Linked DNA regions of Homo sapiens. The protein of the gene in region 2 purifies or fractionates together with the protein of the main gene of each other region. This does not show direct contact. Each region holds a gene or a part of one and is shown on either strand. Other genes may lie near its edges.

The links. Proteins that work in one complex are often made in the same cells at the same time.
Region 1: the proteins of PKP2 (region 2) and FGG purify together in Homo sapiens (co-immunoprecipitation; one large-scale study listed by IntAct). This does not show direct contact.
Region 3: the proteins of PKP2 (region 2) and ALDH2 purify together in Homo sapiens (co-immunoprecipitation; one large-scale study listed by IntAct). This does not show direct contact.
Region 4: the proteins of PKP2 (region 2) and SERPINB5 purify together in Homo sapiens (co-immunoprecipitation; one large-scale study listed by IntAct). This does not show direct contact.

What each region holds. Positions count from the first base shown.
Region 1 is NC_000004.12:154,606,664-154,609,656, forward strand, and holds part of FGG (fibrinogen gamma chain isoform gamma-B precursor), read right to left. Parts: coding exon 2,967-2,993; intron 1,988-2,966; coding exon 1,803-1,987; intron 320-1,802; coding exon 42-319; intron 1-41. UniProt on the Homo sapiens protein: Together with fibrinogen alpha (FGA) and fibrinogen beta (FGB), polymerizes to form an insoluble fibrin matrix. Has a major function in hemostasis as one of the primary components of blood clots.
Region 2 is NC_000012.12:32,872,778-32,876,277, reverse strand, and holds part of PKP2 (plakophilin-2), read left to right. Parts: intron 1-3,500. UniProt on the Homo sapiens protein: A component of desmosome cell-cell junctions which are required for positive regulation of cellular adhesion.
Region 3 is NC_000012.12:111,790,933-111,794,432, reverse strand, and holds part of ALDH2 (aldehyde dehydrogenase, mitochondrial isoform 1 precursor), read right to left. Parts: intron 3,128-3,500; coding exon 3,014-3,127; intron 2,373-3,013; coding exon 2,270-2,372; intron 1,836-2,269; coding exon 1,651-1,835; intron 1-1,650. UniProt on the Homo sapiens protein: Required for clearance of cellular formaldehyde, a cytotoxic and carcinogenic metabolite that induces DNA damage.
Region 4 is NC_000018.10:63,486,958-63,490,457, reverse strand, and holds part of SERPINB5 (serpin B5), read right to left. Parts: coding exon 3,375-3,500; intron 1,112-3,374; coding exon 994-1,111; intron 1-993. UniProt on the Homo sapiens protein: Tumor suppressor. It blocks the growth, invasion, and metastatic properties of mammary tumors.

The DNA of each region.
Region 1 (2,993 bases), on a different chromosome or scaffold from region 2:
ACACTATACATTAACTTGGAATCTAAGAAAGGAAAACATACCTTGGTAATAAACTCCATTGAGATGGCCAGCGTGACACTTGTTCATCCACCAACCAGATCCATCCTGTTCAGCACAGTTGCCTTCAAACTTATCATTGTCATTGTCCCAGGTACTGAACTGCATGCCATTATGGGATGTGAAAAACTTGTCACTAGGATCATCGCCAAAATCAAAGCCATCAAAGGCATCTCCAGCATCCCCACCAGCGAAGTAGGCATATGTTAGGCGGTACTTGTCAGCTTCAGGTCCCACCTTGAACATGGCATAGTCTGCAGTACTGAGAAGAAGGAAATACAACCATCACATGCTGACCCTCCTCAGGGATCTCAGAAGTTCCCTCTTTCGTAGGATGCTTCCTTGGAATTTTTGACTTTGTTTCTTAAGGCTGAAATTTGCTCATTGAGTGAAGTTTTTTGCAAATCTGGCAAGAGGCAATAGATATGTGAACCAGTCCACAGCTCATTAACACTTCCCGGGATGGGCCTAGAAGCCTTTGAAGCATCTCTGAAAACTAATAATTGCACTCACTTGGATGCTTTTTTGCTTGTTTCATTCTAAGATCAAATCCAGATGTGTAGATGACTCTAATTTCATATTTTCTACTTTTATTGAAATGTTATGTGTTGCACACACATTATCATAGATCACAGAAAGTATCTGACAGTGAGTGACCCTTAATTATTGCACAAAACTTGAAGGAGGTACAGTTCCATTAGCCACTCATAGCACCTGAAGGGTTAGGTGCTAAAGGGATTTTCTTCCTCAAATCAGTGTGGTAGTGGCAAGAAGGAGAGCTTCTGAGGGCATTACACAATCAAAGTCTTCCCTGTGTGGTCCAAAGCATGTGAGCTGAAGGAGTTAGAGAGATTCTTTCCTGGAAAAAATTGTGCAAGTGGACAACACTTCTATAGAGTGGGGGAAAGGATGGGCCTTAATGAATGAACAGAAATTTCCAGAAAATATTTAGCTTATTTTCTAATCTCCAGTGGCTGGGAAATGGAAGGTCCTTTCCTAGAAGAAGGTCTACTGACTATAGCACTTTCTGGATTAAAAACCAACCAAGCAATAAAAAAAAGTCCATGTGTTTGAAGACAATATATTTCACTATTCCTTATACATAACAAGAGGGTTGGATATTTTTCTGCATTTTAATTAGGTAACAATGCTTAAAACCTTCAAATATCTCAAGCAAAAAGAAGCCTCTAGATCATCAAAAGAGCTAGCTGGTTTACTTTTAGGGTAGCTCATGATTTGACAGAATAAATGGCCATCAAGGCACTGAGAAGTCTGAAGAGGCTGTATTTGCTTTTCAACCAGGATAGTTGTTAAGAGGACAGGCTCTAAAGTTAAACTACTTGAGTCTGAATTCTACCTCTACCACTTATCAGCAATGTGACTTTGAGCAAGTTAATCTATAAAATGGGATTAATAATAATACCTGCTTCATGAAATAGTAATTTAGACTAGATAAAATTATAATTTTATGCTCAATTCCTGGGACTGATTAAAAGTTCAGTAATTAGCTATTACTCTGAATGGTTCCAGGGTAATTAGATTGTACCAATACACTTAGATTCATCCTGAATAGAATTTACCTTTTTGGATTGCCCAAGAACCAAACAGACTCCTGGAGAAAATGGTGGCTGGATGTGCTGTTTGCATTTGTCAGGCTGCATTTGCCATTGTCTATTGATAGTTGGAAAGTGCACATTCCAGGCAATCTTTACAATAAAAAGTTGGAAGTCATTTCAAAACAGTACCTGGTTCTGCCATTCCAGTCTTCCAGTTCCACTCTTAATGCATATGGGATGGCAGACTGTGTGCTTATCAAATGAATCTTCTCATTTCCCAGCCAAAATTCTGTTGTGCCAGTAGGAGACAGATGTCCAAATCCTTCTTTATATTGAATCCAGTTTTTCTTGAAATCTACACTGCCATCAAGTCTCTAATTACACATTTGCAAGAGCAAAAGGAGAAAATAGACTATCAATGCATGTAAAGAGAATGCTGTCAACATTTTGTCAAAAATACAGAGCACTGGTTCTATCAACTCCCAACTAAGTGATCTTGGCCAAGCTACCTCAGTTTCCTCATGTATCAAATAGGAAAAATGATGGTTACTTCTTAGGGTTGCTGCAAGGATCATGAGAGAGAATATAAGAGAAATACTTAAGAGGGTTTCTGGCACATCATAAATTCTAAATGAGTGGTAATATTAAAAAGACACCTAGACGACTTCAGAACTCTAGCTGGATATTACTGATTCTTACACTTATGATGGAACCCATTGCTCAATCGGTGTCTGGCAACTAATGCTTCCACCATTCATTCCCTCTGAGCGCCCCCTGTAGAAACAGTTATAACAGTGGTGGGAGGTAAACAGAAAGTAAAGGAGCCAAGATTCCTAGTGGGTATCAGCAAGTGGCAGATGCAACACAGGTTCCTTGTCTTGGAGCAGCCCAAGTGTATCCTCTGGTGTGTGAAAGGGTGGTGATGGTGGTGGGGTGGTGGGGGGTGGTGTTGGGCTTCCTCATCTTGTGATGGGAAACCTCAGGTCTTGACCTACCTGACAAAAGAGTTTCCTTCTTTTTATTTGTCACTGTGGTACTATGATTATGTGCCACCATGAATCTACAAAGTCAGTGCCAGTACAATATAGAGTCAAGTCACAAACTCTGAAACTATACTGCCTAGGTTCAAATGCTGACTCTGTTGCTTATTAGTTATGTGGTCTTGGGCAAGTTATTTAACCTTGTGTGCCTCAGTTTCCTTTTCTGTAAATAGGAGTAACAGAAGTACCTTCCTCTTAGGGCTATTGCAAGGATTAAATGAGCTACGGTTCACAAGGTGCTTAGAAAAGTATCTGCCATATGGCAGAAACAATGTAGGAATTTATTAAATACACATGGTGGGGAAAAAATTACCTTCTGAAACACAGTCCATCCATTTCC
Region 2 (3,500 bases):
TTCAGTCCCCTCCATTCCACCTAAACAGTCTCCTGACAAATGTAGCAATGATGGCCTTATCTGCTACATCCTAAGCAGACACTATATTGAGTAATATAAGCACTGCTTATATTACTCAACCTGTGGGTGGTGTTTGAGACACCATGAAATTCTCTCATCCCTTGGTTTTCAGGGCACCAGCTTCCCCTGGTTTTCCACTCACCTCTCCAGCCATTCTTTGTTAGTGTTCTCTGCGTGCTCCCTTTCTGCCTGCTCAAAGAAGGCATCTTCAGTAACCCTTCTATTCCAAGTCTTGATGCTCTTCCAGAGAGGCTCTGTGTACCTCACTTTTATCCTTATGGTTCTCAAAGTTTTGTCTGCAATTCCATCCTTGATGCCAAATTCTGGACCTATATGAAAATGTAACAACCTCCTGGAAATTTCACACTCAGTATATCCTAAACTAAACTCATCATCTCCCTATCCTCAACTTCCACCCATCTCCTCCTGCTGTAGTCTACTATTTTCAAACCTGGAAGTCATTCTTATCTTCTCCCTCTGTAGTCACCTATCACCAAGCCATATTTTTCCTTCTATGATGGGTCTTGAATTTTTACCCTTCTTTCCATTTCCATTACACAGGGCTCTCTGCCTCTGGTCTTGCTCAGTCAGAACCGTTCTCTAGGACTGTCAGAATTATCTTTCCACATGTGATTGTTTATAACCCTTCCATAATTCCACTAAGTGTTCATGCTTTTAGGCATGACCTACAAGCCCCATTGTGTTTTCAGCTCTGCTTATCACTTCAGCCTCTTCTCCTTCTACTCTTCTCTGCCATTCATCACCACCATCCCCAAACATACCCACATACCAATACCCAAACCACCTGGAACCTCTTTACTTTCCTTAATGCAAGATATTTATCCATATTCATTCTCTCTCTCTTTCCTTCTTTTCCCCCACTCCACACCTTTACATATGCAGCTCTACTTTTGTCTGACTACTTATAATTCTGGATTTAGCTCAGATACCACCTATTTTCTGACCACTTCCTTCCCAGTCTAGCTTAGGTGCCCCAGATAGCAGCCTTGTGTGAGTGTCTCTATCAGAAAAATATATTGTGGCTATTCATTTGCTTATCTGTTCTCCCTCTGGACTTTGAGATTTTTGTGAATGCTCAATCATCTTTATATTCTCAGCACCCTAAAATGGAAGTAGGCCTATAGTAGGCACTGTATAAATATATGATGAGGCCAGCACAGTGGCTCACATCTGTAATCCTAGCACTTTGGGAGGCCCAGGCTGGAGGATCGCTTGAGCCCAGGAGTTTGAGACCAGCTTGGGCAAAATAGGGAGACCCCGAGACCCCACTTCTATTAAAGATAAACAACTTAGCCTGGCGTGATAGTGCCCACCTGTGGTCCCAGCTACTCCGGAGGCTGAAGTGGGAGGATTGCTTGAGCCAGGGAGGTTGAGGCTACAGTGAGCTGTGATTGTGCCACTGTACCCCAGCCTGGGCAACAGAATGAGATCTTCTTTCAAAAAATAAGTATATGGTGAAAGAGTGAAGGAATTAAAGGAAGGAGAAATGAAATATAAATTTTACTTTTTGCCATCTAGGTTCTTTTGTTGCTCAAATTCTAGAAGTATTAGTCATACTATTTTTGGATTATTGTTTTAATAGACAGGGTAAATTGTATTATAATATTTAATCATATTTCCAAGAGTAGAAGGAACACTTGGGGTCAAGAAATTTAAAAATAATGAGTAAGAAATCTCTTCCTGAGATTTCCCCAAATTCTAGAGAGTAGAAATCATAGAAATCAACTTTTTTTCTCTGATTATGAAAGGAAAATTTGGCTCTCTGTGAAAAGGAGAGGGAGCCAGACGTATTTTGTGTAATGAGGAAGATAGATGCCCAAGGTGGTGCCTGTGCCTGTCTGACCTCCCCCTTTCCTCTGCTGGGCTCCACGCCTCATTTCAGTTCCCCAGGCTGCTCCCTGGGACACCTGCCCTGAGACCACACACTGTGTTCTCTTTGGTCCCGCATTGTCAAACTTTGTCCAGCCCTTTTTTGGGGGGGATTTAAGTTTTTATGCCTAGTGAAACTCCCACATGTAAAGGAGTATTCTTTCATATATGTTGAATATTAACTGGACAAAACCATAAACCTGCATAATGACTTAAGGTATTAAACAATGGACCTGGCTTTCCAAAAGAAGAATGGCTGGTTAAACAGTTACTAATGCAGCTAAAAACTGAGACTTGGAGTGTGAGAGAGACAAACTGATGAAACCGATGTTCTAAATCAAACTGATGAAAAAGGTTTTTAAGAATCACCACAAAAAAAATTATAGATGAATTTTTCTAAAACCATGATTTATGACCAGTTGGAGGCTGATGGTTCTGCAAATGAGTAGTAGGATCTTCATAGGTCCTTCCCAGTAAGCATCACAAAAGATGAAAATGGGCCGGACGCGGTGGCTCACGCCTGTAATCCCAGCACTTTACGAGGCCGAGGTGGGCGGATCACTTGAGGTCAGGAGTTTGAGACCAGCCTGGCCAACATGGTGAAAACCCGTCTCTACTAAAAATACAAAAGTTAGCCAGGCATGGTGGTGGATGCCTGTTATCCCAGCTACTCAGGAGGCTGAGGCAGGAAAATTGCTTGAACCCAGGAGGCGGAGGTTGCAATGAGCTGGTATCGTGCCATTGCATTCCAGCCTGGGCGAAGGAGCAAGACTCAGTCTCCAAAATAATAATTAAATAAATAAAAGATGAAAATTGAGTGAGATGTATGATGGTCTAGGAGAGGAGCAGTGAAAAATAGGATATATCATCAAGTGCTAGGTTGTGTGATACATATTAGTGTCTACAGAAATTTAAAGAACACAAGAGCAGGGCCGGGCATGGTGGCTCACACCTGTAATCCCAGCACTTTGGGAGGCTGAGGCTGGCAGATTGCTGGAGCCCAGGAATTTGAAACCAGCCTGGGCAACATGGCAAAACCCCACTTCTACAAAGTACAAGAATTAGCTGGGCATGGTGGTGCATGCCTGTAGCCCCAACTACTCAGGAGGCTGAGGCAACAGAATCACTTGAGCCTGGGAGGTCCAGGCTGCAGTCAGCCATGATCGTGACACTGCACTCCAGCCTGGGCAACAGAGTGAGACCCTGTCTCAAAGCAAAACAAACAAAACCCACAAGAGCATCGTGCTCTGGGATTAGTTGAGGGAGACTAAGCAGAGAGGGTGGATCTTCTCTAGGATTGACAGTCAAATTTGTGACCAAGAGCACTGCAGAGCAGAAAACAGATCATATTGACTTCCCTCCACGTCCTCTTAATTACTACCTGCTTTAGTTCTTTAATTTTTCATCTCTTTCAACTCTACCTTTTTTTTCCATTTCCATTTTTAACAGCCCAGTTCAAGGCTTTTTTGCCTCAGCTGAACCTTTTATAGTGCCCTCAACGCTGTCTCTCTTTCAAGAAACACATATCCATTCCAGAGTCATCTTTCCAA
Region 3 (3,500 bases), about 79 Mb from region 2:
GGAATCAGAAATGCAAACTGCTAAAAGAAAGAAGCCAGTCTGAGAAGGCTACCTACTGTATGATTCGTATAAGACAATCTGGAAAAGGCAAAACTATAGAGACAATAAAAAGATCGGCCAGGCACAATGGCTCACGCCTGTAATCCCAGCACTTTGGAAGGCTGAGGTGGGTGGATCACGAGGTCAGGAGATCGAGACCATCCTGGCCAACGTGGTGAAACCCTGTCTCTACTAAAAATACAAAAATTAGCTGGGCATGGTGGCATGCACCTGTAAGTCCCAGCTACTCAGGAGGCTGGGGCAGGAGAATCACTTGAACCCAGGAGGTACAGGTTGCAGTGAGCCGAGATCACGCCACTGCACTCCAGCCTGGTGACGGAGCGAGACTCTGTCTCAAAAAAAAAAAAAAAAAAAAAAATCAGTGGTTGCCTGCCAGGGCTCAGGGGAGGAAAAGAGGGAAGAATAGGTGGAGGACGGGGGTTTCAGGGCACAAATATATTTATATGATACTAGAATGATGGTATCATACACATTATGATACATTTGTCTAGGCCCATAGTAAGTACAACACAAAAAATGACCCCGAGGCTGGGTGCCTGACAGCAGATTGCCCGAGCTCAGGAGTTCGAGACCAGCCTGGGCAACAGAGTGAAACCCTGTCTCTACTAAAACACAAAAAATTAGCCAGGCGTGGTGGTGCGCACCTGTAGTCCCAGCTACTCAGGAGGCTGAGGCACAAGAATTGCTTGAACCCGGGAGGCATGAGTCGAGATCGTGCCACTGCACTGCAGCCTGGGTGACAGAACAAAACTCTGTCTCCAAAAAAAATAAAAATTAAAAAAAAAAACCCGAATATACACTACAGACCTAAGTGAATAATAAGGTACCAGTATTGGCTCATCAATACTAACAGATGAACCACACTCATGCAGGATGTGAATAAAGGGGAAACTGGTGGAACAGGGAGGTGCGAAGGAATATATGGGCACCCTCTGTACGTTCAGCTCTATTTTTCTATAAACCTACAACTGCTCAAAAGTAAAATCCAGGCCAGGTGTGGTGGTTCATGTCTGTAATCCCAGCACTTTGAGAGGCCAAAGCAGGAGGACTCCTTGAGCCCAGGAATTCAAGGCTGAGGTGAGGTATGATTGCACCACTACACTCCAGCCTGGGCAACAAAGAGAGACCTTGTCTCTAAAATATAAATAGGTAAATAAATAAATAAATAAAATCAAACAGCTCAAAACATGAAGTGAAATAAAGTCCCTATACTAGCCATACCATGGCTCTCAGACACGAAGGTTCACAGAGCTGTGTATCTTCTGGTGGATACACTTCTACTGATGACCAAGGTCTTGGAAACACACACTCCCTTTTGCAGACACTCCTGGTATTTGTTACATATATGCAATTTACAAAGTGCTTCCCAGGATTAATTTCTACATCACAGCCACCCTGTGAATGAGGCAGGGCACGGCTCGGGATGGGGAAATGAAGGCTGAGGGAGGGAACATAGCTTCCCAAAGGCACACAGCTGCTGTGTGGTAGAGCTGAGACCTGAACCCAGTCCCAACTGATCTGAGCCCGATGCCCTCTCTGCTTCTCATGCTGGCTCTAGACACCCAGACCCTGCGGCACTGCCTGGCTCACCTGCGGCCCCTGCTCGGTCTTGCTATCAAAGGGGTTCCCGACCACCCGAGACTTGGCCCGGGCAACGCTCCGCTCCACAAACTCATCATAGATGTCCTCCTGCACGAAGGTCCGGGAGCCGGCACAGCAGCACTGGCCCTGGTTGAAGAACAGGGCGAAGTGGGCCTGTTCCACGGCCCAATCCACTGCGGGAAGTGGGCAGGAGACAGAAAGGTGACAGTGAGGAGGAGGACCCTGGCCCTGGTGGCCGCCTGCCCAATGGAGCCTGTTCCCACCACTGTAAGGGTTGATGCCTGCTGGGTGCCAGAGACAGATACAGGGAGATGAGGGGTGCTCTCGGAGCCCACTGCCAACCAGGACAAAGGGCGTGATGGCGGCAAGTGGATGAGTCAGATAGCAGGGGCGTGGCCTAGCCTGATGATGCAGAGAGCAGCCAGGGAGAGGCTGGGGACAGGCCAAGGCCAGGCCATGCAGGCCCTGCGCTGGCGTCTTATCCTGAGGCCCGAGGGACAGCAACCAACGCCATTGGGCACTGGGGGGGCGACAGGATCGGCTGGAGCCACAACACAGGTGGCCAGGGCTACCTTCAAGGCCAGGCCTTCTCCAGCTGGAAACTCACTATCGGCATCTGACATGATGATGTTGGGGCTCTTCCCCCCCAGCTCCAAGGTCACTCTCTTGAGGTTGCTGCTCCCAGCAGCAACCTGGATTACGCGGCCAATCTGTGGGGACAGAAAGACAGGAACAAGCTCTCAGTGCCGGGAGAAAAGAGTCCAGCACTCTATAGACACAGAACAGAGTCCCCCACAGCTTGAGTGAGCAACTGGACCACGAGAGACCTAGAGAATTTCACCAAATAGACGTTCACTTTTTTTTTCTTTTGGACAGGGTCTCGCTCTGTCACCTAGGCTGGAGTGCAGTGGCGTGATCTCAGCTCACTGCAGCCTTGACCTCTCAGGCTCTGGCAACCCTCCTGCCTCGGCCTTCCAAGTAGCTGGGGCCACACGCACACACCACCACACAAGGCTAATTTTTAACCACAATGGCAGTCCTGGTCAAGGAGTCTGACCTGGCCAAGATGCTTTGATTTGGGGCAAGCGGTCAGCTCTGGGCTATGTGGAGTCTGGCCAGGCCTGGCCTCCTTAGTCCACATGGGACACTGGCCCCTCCCAAGGGCAGCTAGTGTGGCAACCAGACCACGAAGGGCTCAACCCTGCCCCACCCCTCCTGGTACCTACAGGGTCGTCCTGGAGGAAAAGGCCTCCGCTTGACACCCGGGAGCTCACCTTGAGCATGTCGTCCACTGAGGACAGGGGGAGCTTGGGCCAAGGAGGCTGCAAGCTTGAGGCCAGGGTCACCTTACCTCAGTGGAGCCTGTGAATGCCACTTTGTCCACATCCTCATGGGAGGCAATGGCGGCCCCAGCCGTGGGGCCAAATCCAGGCACAATGTTGACCACACCAGGGGGAAAGCCAGCCTGTGAGCAAACAGCCAGGGGACATTGGGAGTCACCCTCCTATTCTGAAGGGCTCAACCAGGGGAAGACACATCCTTTCTCAGAGAGGGTGGGACAGTCTGCCAAGGACACATGTGGTCAGAAGCTAATTGTATGGGGCACTACATGGGAATTCTAAATGGGACGGAGAAGGAGTCTGTTCGCTGGGGTTCCCTGTGTCTTTGCCCCTCCCCTGACAGCATTCACTTAGAACAACAGTGGGTTTTTGTTTGTTTTTTGAGACCGAGTCTCTCTCTGGCACCCAGGCTGGAGTGCAGTGGTGTGATCACAGCTCACTGCAGCCTCAAACTCCTGGGCTCAAGTGATCCTCCTGCCTTAACCTCCCAAGTAGTTG
Region 4 (3,500 bases), on a different chromosome or scaffold from region 2:
ACTGGGGAGGGGGACAAAGTCACTGATTTGCCCTCAAAATCATCATAACCCTAATTCTTTTCCAGCAAGGAAGACGACTCACCGGCAATTTTAAGGGAGGGACGAGGAGTCCGACGAGGGAGACGCCTGGGGGAAGCACTGAGCCGGAGAAAGAACCTAGGAGCTTCTTGGACCCCGGGGCTATCAGAGGAACGACCAGCATGGGGAGCTGCGGCACCGAGGACAAGCTGACACTACGGTTTTGTTTGGTTTGGTTTTCTTTTTTTAAGACAGAGTCTCACTCTGTCGCCCAGGCTGGAGTGCAGTGGCGCGATCTCTGCTCACTGCAAGCTCCGCCTCCCGGGTTCACGCCATTCTCCTGTCTCAGCCTCCCGAGTAGCTGGGACTACAGGCGCCCGCCACCACGCCCGGCTAATTTTTTGTATTTTTAGTAGAGACAGGGTTTCACCGTGTTAGCCAGGATGGTCTCGATCTCCTGACCTCGTGATCCGCCCGCCTTGGCCTCCCAAAGTGCTGGGATTACAGGCGTGAGCCACCGCGTCCAGCCGGTTTTTCTTTTACATATGTTGCCTATGTCCCTTTTTCCTTAACAAATTTGTAAAATTTGTCAGCTGAAAGGGGCCTCGGGGATCATGAAGTTATAATCCAGTCCCTCTATTTCCAGACTGAAAAATGGCCTCATGATTGGCCCAAAGTCATACTTTGTTAGAGGCGCAGCTAGGATTCCACTAGGGCCTGTGACAGCTCGTCAGAGAGCAAGACAAAGTAAACTAACACTGAAGCATCAACAGTTTCTACCAAGTGATGAGATGATACAAGAATTGCCCAGAAATCCAAGTTGTTTACAGGCTTGAAGGGAAAGAATTTAGCTTGTGTAGTAAAAATATCCAGAGAATCCTCCAGATGTTTTTTTTATCCTTGGAGCAAACATTTATGAGATGGAAGGCCCTGTTTACTTGGTGATTGATAGCAGAACAATTAAAGGGTACTTGCCATCTGTGAGATCCTTAATTGAGTTGTTGATCTGACCTTTCGTTTCTTCCAATTTATCTTTGAAGTCAACAGTTTCCAATTCCTTTGCATACGGTCTCTTCGTAGAGCTGATGAACTCCTGAAAAACATGCAGTTCATAAAATCAGAGTCTGTAGTCAAGCTATTGCATTGTTATTCTCTTCTAACAAAAGGATTATTAAATATCAACTGCTATATGTACACTTTCAAAATTGGTAACACTATATGAATTGAAACCTCATGTAGAAGTCAGTGAATTTCTTTGTATTGAATGTTTCATTTTTTTCAATTATAAGACAATTTCAATTATTAAATGCATCTATCAATTTAATATCAGCTTTGGGGAAAACACTATGTTAAATATGCCCAATTCTCTTATGGGTTGTAATTTCAGAAACATGAAAATTTTGTATGTCTACAGATACATATATATTAGAATATAGGAAATGTATAGAAAACAGAATTATGAGCAGAAAACTCTTGTCTTTGCTGAACTAAATATCCTGTAGACCCTTGCTACTCAAACTGTGGTCCAAGGTGGTGTACAGCATCACCTGAGACCTTGTTAGAAATAAAGAATCTCAGACCCCACCCCAGACATACTGAATCAGAATGCATTTTAACAAAATTTCCAGGTGTGCCATCTGCAAATTAAGGTTGGAAACACAATGCAGGAGAGAACATAACAGGAGTTCTTATTCTAATGCTTATTTAAAATGTGCAACCCTAAACCCCATTCCCACCTTGACAATCAGAACTACCTGGGTTTAATCAGAACTACCTGGGTTCAATCAGAACTACCTGGGTGTTAAAAGGGCCTGAAGAACTTGCCCTTTTAACACCCAGATAGTTCTTATGCAAGAGATCCTCCACAGAGCACACTTGTTTGGACCTTTAACTAGTAAATTTGCAGATGCTGTGCACCTAGCAGGAGCAATGGAAAGCAGTCTTTTAAAAAATCTTTTGTAATGAGCCGAGATCATGCCGCTGCACCCCAGCCTGGGCAACAGAGAAAGACTCCATCTCCAAGGAAAAAAACAAAACAAAACTTTACAACTCCTAGTCTGGTTAAGATCATTCCAGATGTTGCATGGAAGTTCAGTGAAACTAAATATAACTTGATTCAGTGTCATGTCAGTTCACTTCCAAGCACAGGGCTTCTTGAATTTCTTCAGAGCAGCTTCAGCCTTAGCCAATTAACTTAGCTTCAGTTAATTGCAAATCAACCTTGGGACTCACTGTCACCATTGACTGACAGAACCAATCTCACCTGAAAACATTAGAAAGCCTCAGCCAGATGAAGGAGGGCCTCCATTGTCCTCACTGCCAGCAATAAAAATGTGTTAATTGTCTCTTTAATGATCATTTAGGGAGCTTCTAGAAATGTTGTATGCTCAGGCTTCAACTCACATCTCAGTTTTTTTTTTTAAATTCTTCAGATGATTGTTGGAAGAAAAATGGTTGTGTGTATGTATCTTTAAGCAACAAAAAATATACTCACAATATCTAGTAACCCATGTCCTCAAAAGATCTTAACCACAAAAATACCTACTGCAGAAAGTTGCAAAATCATGGTAAAATATTTAAAAGCTGGTAGTCTAGCTTTTCGATTTGGAAACCTTGAAATTCTGACCATCCAAACAGGAACTAAATCAACTCTGTGTTACTGAAGTACAGAGGGAAACTTCATGTAGTCTAGAATATTGTCTGTGTGTTTCAAATACAGATTTTTAAATATTACAACAATGGGTACCGTAGTGGTGTTTGTATGATTCCTTAGAGCAATGGCTAAACTTATATAACCAGAGCTGCCTGTGGAGATCCCCATCTGACCAGCCCAGCCAACAAAACTAATTTGTGACTGATGAAAATTGTGAATTCATAGTTATTATTTTTCTTACTGATTTTGAGAAACATCAGAAGAATGTGTGCATAAAAAATGAGGTGGAGAGCTTAAAACATTGTCCCAGGCCATATGCCCTGCTCTTTAAGGAGAAAGAAGTTTAAATCATTAGCTGTCTTACACTCTGTAAGACAGCTCATTGTCTATGGAGCTACATTTATTAGAGAGTTAATTACTCTGTTCTCCATTCTCTCAGAGGAAGGTAAAAGAAAGGGTAAGATTTATTTGAGAGAGAAAAGGAAAGCCCATAAGCTTCTCTGTATTTTGAGTTAGAAGATGTGACTGCAATTGATTCCCACTATACTCAACCTCTCCACTAGGATTTATTTATTTAAAGCCTCAAATCACAAGTGAACATCCTAGAAAGGAATTTCACTGAAAAAAAGTTGTAGGTCTAACAGCATGAAAATGCCACTCCTTGTAAAAAGTTAAGTCTTGCTACTTGCTTTAAACAACTTACTGTAGAAAGATTCAGAGATTTGTCTACGTAGAGCCGCTTGATTAGTTTCAGTGAGTAAAAGGAACTAAGTTTGTTTACATCCGATGTTACTGTTTGAAATCCAAAGGGTACATCTTTGACATTTTC